2 linked regions of the Homo sapiens genome follow. The protein of the gene in region 2 purifies or fractionates together with the protein of the main gene of each other region. This does not show direct contact. Each region holds a gene or a part of one and is shown on either strand. Other genes may lie near its edges.

What was found.
Region 1: the proteins of RERE (region 2) and SETD1B purify together in Homo sapiens (affinity purification with mass spectrometry, with the first as the bait; one large-scale study listed by BioGRID). This does not show direct contact.

Annotation. Positions count from the first base shown.
Region 1 is NC_000012.12:121,827,995-121,830,582, reverse strand, and holds part of SETD1B (histone-lysine N-methyltransferase SETD1B), read right to left. Parts: coding exon 2,513-2,588; intron 518-2,512; coding exon 344-517; 3' UTR 1-343. UniProt on the Homo sapiens protein: Histone methyltransferase that catalyzes methyl group transfer from S-adenosyl-L-methionine to the epsilon-amino group of 'Lys-4' of histone H3 (H3K4) via a non-processive mechanism.
Region 2 is NC_000001.11:8,811,127-8,814,640, forward strand, and holds part of RERE (arginine-glutamic acid dipeptide repeats protein), read right to left. Parts: intron 1-3,514. UniProt on the Homo sapiens protein: Plays a role as a transcriptional repressor during development. May play a role in the control of cell survival. Overexpression of RERE recruits BAX to the nucleus particularly to POD and triggers caspase-3 activation, leading to cell death.

The DNA of each region.
Region 1 (2,588 bases), on a different chromosome or scaffold from region 2:
AGGCCGAGGGTGATGGTGGGAGAGAGAAGAGACAGAGAAGAGAGAGAGGGGAGGAGAGACGGAGAGAGAGAAGCTGATGCTGGAGTTAAACAGAAATCCTGAAAGGGGCGTTTGTTAAAATGAGAGAGACGTGGGCTGAACGACAGAGAAGCCCTTTCCCGCGGAGGGGCCGGAGCCAGGGGCTCCAGGGGGTAGTGTGGGGCGCCAGGCCCTGAATGGCCGCTGGGTAGAGGACAGCACCTGAAATGGGGGCGGGCGCGGGGGGCCGGGCCCCGGGGCCAGGGGCTCCACGCTCGGGAGTCCCAGGGCTACGGCTGACATCCTTTGAGTCTGGTGCCGGGGCCTAGTTGAGGGTCCCCCGGCAGTTCTCGGAGCCACAGAGGCAGGGGATCTTGACGTCCTCGATGGGGAACTTATAGTCATAGGTAATCTCCTCATTGACGTTAATGTGCTGCTTCGAGTAGATGACTATCTTCTTCTGTGACTCCACCGTGATCACCTTGGCATAGCAGTTGGGCTGCAGGCAAGGTGGGGGGGAGAATGAGCCCCTGGTCCCCCAGGGTCCCCCACCACTGCAGACCCCCCAAACCCAACCAGGCCTGTGCTTAAGGCCTGACATGCCACGTGACCCCCAGCCCACTGCTCTGCTCTGGACCTTGGCTCCCCCGACCCCCAGGGGTGACCCCTTGCCTCTGATATTAAATAATGATGATAAAAATTATTTCCCAGGCCTTTCATTTCCATTCGTAGTACAAGTGCCTCCCAAATGTATGTCTATTTTTAGCTCAGGTCTCACTTCTGAGCTCTAAAAAAAGGGTCAGCAAACTATAGCCCCTAGCAGCCTGTTTTTGTAAATAAAGTTTTACTGGCACATAGCCATATCCATTCTCCCATTCATTTGCATATAATTTGTGGCTGCTTTTGTTACAATAGCCAAGTTCAGTAGTTGCCATAGAGATCATCTGAGCCACCAAGCCAAAAACATTTATTATCTGGCCCTTTACAGAAAAGGTAAAGGCCTCCAAGCCCATAAATGCAACTACCTGCTGTCTGCCAGTGGCAGCCCTGGGTACTGTCTTTGACTTAGCTCACACCTAAAGCATGATCTGCTCCTGCTCTGGGCAGCCGCTGCACCACACACCCAGGCCCCAGAGCATCTGCCTCCCTGCCTCCTTCAGTCCAGATCTGGCCCCAACCAGGGCCGGTGAGTTCAGTCCCGGAAGGGCCTCTTGGTTGTGTCTACTGCTCTCCACTTCTGGGGCCACCAGCCACGCTCAGGCCCCCATCACTGCTCACCCGCCTGCTACAGCCCCCTTGGCCACTCTCACCCCTGAAAAAATCCACTCCTGCCCCAGCAGCCAGGGAAACGTTTCCAAAGGGATAGCAGAACCTGTTGCCCGATGGCTCCAACCTTCCAGCGACCTTGGCTCTCAGAGAAACTTAGTTCCTCAGCTTGGCCACCCTCAGCCCTGCCCACCCCATCCTCTTACCCCACCCCATGCCCACTGCCTCCCTTGCTATCTCTCAAACAGGTGTTCTCCCAACTGCCCCAGGGCCTTTGAACACGCAGTTCCCCTTGCCCCAGCACCGCTTCCCCTGGGCAATTCCCTCTCACCCCTCAGATCTCCCCGGATATTCACAGGAAAGTCCCTACCACCCAGGCAAGGATCAAGTCACAACGAAGAGAGCCAGCAGGCGCTGAGGACTGGCCTGGCCAGCACTCAAATGGCCCACGTGCAGTGACCCACCTATGTGGCCCTCCCAACAACCTAAAAGGAGAGACTGTTATTGTCTCTGTTTTACAGACAAGGAAACTCAGGCATAAGAGACATTAAGTAACTCACTAAGCTGCAATGCCAAGACTTGAACCCAAAGTCAGGGGCATCCACCCCGGAACATGCCTGCCTCCTGCTCAGAGCTTCCTGTGCTCTTCCTTCAGCACTCAAATCCCTGTTATCAGTGTCCCTCCCCTCTAGGCCTGCACCACCCAATACAGTCGTCACAAGCTAATTAAGTTTAAATTCATCAAAATGAAATAAAATTTAAAACTCAGGTCCCCAGATGCACTGGGCACATTTCCAGTGCTCACCACCACACATGTGGCTAACCCACAGCACAGATGCACGCAGTGCACCTCCCCCTTGCAGAAAGTTCTAGTGGACAGCTCGGCCCGAGCAGGACTGAGCCTGACCAATGAAGGCACGGAGAAAAGGCTAACGCAGAGAAATAACTCCGAAATTACCAATGAACTGAACCAACCACTTCTTTGAGTCCTCTAAATGCCACAGAAGTCTCACTATGCCCATTTGACAGATGAGAAACTGAGGCTCAGAGGAGTAGAGCTCCTGGTAAAAGACCTCACATGTCCTCCTCTCCCTATAACCCTTGGCCAACCTGAGCTTGGGAAGGAGGCCGAGCTGATTCCCGTGCCGGGGCTTCCAGGCCCTCCTGGCACAGAAGCAGGGCCAGGGGCAGGAGCAGGGGCAGGGGCCACCCCCCGCTGGGCACTCACGTTGCAGCTGTGGTTGATGAAGCGCGCGAAGTTGCCGCACTTGGTGGCGTCGATGATGGTGTCATGGTCCACCCGG
Region 2 (3,514 bases):
CCCAGCATAGCCAGGTCCTGCCAGAGAACATTTCCAGTGCCTCCCCAGGCAGTTCACACAGACAGACATATGCCCACATGCTCATCTGCTCACACTCCCCCTGAACTGTATTCACCCCACACACACTGAGTGCCTTCATCACTGTACTCCCTTGCTTCCCACCCCAGAAGCAGGAAGAAGGTCAAGAATCAGACCTTTGGCTGGGCATGGTGGCTCACACCTGTAATCCTAGGACTTTGGGTGGCCAAGGTAGGAGGATCACTTGAGCCTAGGACTTCAAGACCAACCTGGGCAACATGACAAGACTTGATTTCTACAAAAAAAAATTAGCCAGGTGTAGTGGTACACACCTCTAGTCCCAGTCCCAGCTACTCGGGAGGCCAAGGAGGGAGGATAACTTGAGCCCAGGAGTTCAAGGCTGCAGTGAGCTATGCTCATGCCACTGCACTCCAGCCTGAACAACAGAGCGAGACCCTCTCTCAAAAAAGAATCAGACTTCTGGGAGCCTAGGGAACATATACAGGTGCCAATGAATGTGTCCGTGCATGCTCTGCTAAGTGTGTGCATGGCTGCGTGAGCTAGAATGGGTTTTTGTAGGAGGAGCTCTGCCCTGCTGCTGCAGGACTGTCTGAAGATGCTGCACAGCCATGCTTCCTCACAAGCTCTCTTTTAAGGTTAGTCCAGGCCAACCACATTAATATTGTCCCCTTTGGGGTGGTATATTTATTGCAACACACAGCCTGGACATTCATATACAGGGCCATGGCACTAGGGTAAGGCGCCACAAACTCCTCCTGCTGAGGAGGCAACAAGGTATCTGGTCGCTAAAGCTGGGTGGGACCCATATCCCTGACAGTATTCCAGTATGTATGAGGCACTGCAGACCTGGGGTTTTTGTTCTTAGGTGAGGCCTGGCTCGTACGGCTTAAATTTCTGTTCTACTTTTCCCCAACTTGAGATGACTCGGAAGACTTTCTGTTCCTTGCAATGAAAAACAGCCTAACCAAAGTCCTTAAAAGTCATGTATATAACTACTTTAAAATTAAGATAAAACCCATGGCTTCGACTTCTGATGCAAATACCCAAGACAAATAGGGTATGAGGATTCCTCAAATACCGAGTGGTTTATGAATTAGAGGCCACATCATTTTATAACTAACCATATAAGGAAAATTTTCACAGTTAAATATATTGCTCACACTTGCTGACATACTGGCAAATTTTACCAGTTAAAAATATGCCGTGTGCAGTGGCTCACGCCTGTAATCCCGGCCCTTTAGGAAGCCAAGGCAGGTGGATCACTTGAGGTTAGGAGTTCAAGACCAGCCTGGCCAACATGGTAAAACCCTGTCTCTTCTAAAAATACAAAAATTAGCCAGGTGTGGTGGCACATGTCTGTAATCCCAGCTACTCGGGAGACTGAGGCAGGAAAATCGCTTGAACCTGGGAAGCAAAGTTGCAGTGAGCCGAGATCGTGCCATCGCACTCCAGCCTGGGTGACAGAGCAAGACTCCATCTCGAAAAATAATAATAATAATAATTTTACACTGGCACAGACCACTTTACCAAAAAAAGCATCTTATATTAACTGTACTCTCTGACCTAGTTACCTAATGTACAGACACACAGTACATCTTATATTACTTGGCACACCAACAAGTTAGCTATACAAATCACAATTCCAACCCAAACTTGAAGCTAGTAAATATATTTAGTATTTGAACTTGAGTTGTGTTCAAATGTTCATTAAATTGGCCTATGCAATCTTAACAATGTTCTAACACATATTTAAAATGCTCATTTCTCCTCCATTATTTAAAAAAAAAACACACACACACACAAACTATAACTCTGTTAGACAAGAAACCAAACATAAGCCAAAAGGCTCGGCAAAATCACACTTAAATAGGACAAGGAGAGCTTCAACTTCAGAATAATTATCAGGATACCAATCACACAAATATGATTCAACAATCACTTAAATATCATTCAAGAGGAATTCCTGGTAGTAAAAAAAGAAATCCCGTAATTAACTAGAGCACAGCATTATCAGAAACTGATTATGTAAAACAATAGCTTTTCTTTCAGGATGTGTGTATGTGTGTGTAACGAAGTTCACAGCTAGGTTACACTAATGACTCACTTAAACATTTGAATTTTCTGCTATCTTAACCTTTAAATCGACTGCAAAAGTAGCTGCCAAAAGTAGCTTAGTAGGAAAGCATACTACTCTCAAAAGAACTTGGTATGTCCAACTTATTTTACTACTTAAATTTTTTTTGATCACTGATATTTGAAACTAATTTTTAAGTAATGAATGCTTACTAAATCCATGATAATATTCAGCATATACAGGTTTTTAGAAGGGCACAGATTATATTCTTATATGTGTGTTTTTACAGCACCTGGAACATTTCTGTTCAGTATCTGTTCAGTATTACACATAATTATTGCAGGACCTGACAGTGTTTACTATCCTATTTTTTCCTTTTTTTTTTTTTTTTTTTAGACAGAGTCTCGCTGTGTCACCCAGGATGGAGTACAGTGGTGCCAATCTCAGCTCCCTGCAACCTCTGCCTCTGAGTTCAAGCAATTATCGTGCCTCAGCCCCCCAAGTAGCTGGGATTACAGCCACGCGCCAAAGTGCCAGGCTAATTTTTGTATTTTTAGTAGAGACGAGGTTTCACCATGTTGGCCAGGCTGGTCTCGAACTCCTGACCTCAAGTGGTCCACTCGCCTTGGCCTCCCAAAGTGCTGGGATTACAGGCGTGAGCCACCGCACTAGGCCTTACTGTCCTATTTTTTAAAAGCTTTTTCGACTGACCAGTAAATCAAAGTTGAAAAGGTAACTGGTACATTTTATTTCTTGATTTGGATTACCTTTTTGTTGTGAATTGGTTCTCAGTTCTAGTTTCCTTGTGACAAAACACTGATGGAGAATATATTGAACTGAAATCCCCTGAATCCATTCCCACTGAGAAAATAATACATTTGAACTGTTCACATTTCATTGTAAAAGATACACAACTTTAGAGATTACTCTTGAAGTTTTGAAAGTAAAGTGAATCAGAAGTCACATTCCTAGAAGCAGTCAGTCTGGAACAGATGTTTATCCTACACACCCAGTCCCCTTTACCACTGCAAACCTCTCTAATAGTTCATTACATTAGAACAACTGAGATGGGCCAGGATTTGTGAAAATAAAAATCCTTTGAGACATTTATTAAGCAGATTATCTCTGAAACTGCACCTTAGTTTACAAGCCTTTGGGCAACAATTTGACCCTCTTCTATGATAATTTGTGTACACACTCATTTCACATTTTCTCTGGCTTCCAATTTTAAATTCTTTATCTAATCCATACAATAAGTCACCCTATCAGACTTTATAAGACTACTGAAAACAACACTACTGCAATGCAAGGCCACTACATTTGCAAAATTGCCGATTTTAGTGAGATTTCCCTCCTTCAACTCCTCCTCTACCCCTCTACCTGGTTTAAATCCCAAGAAAA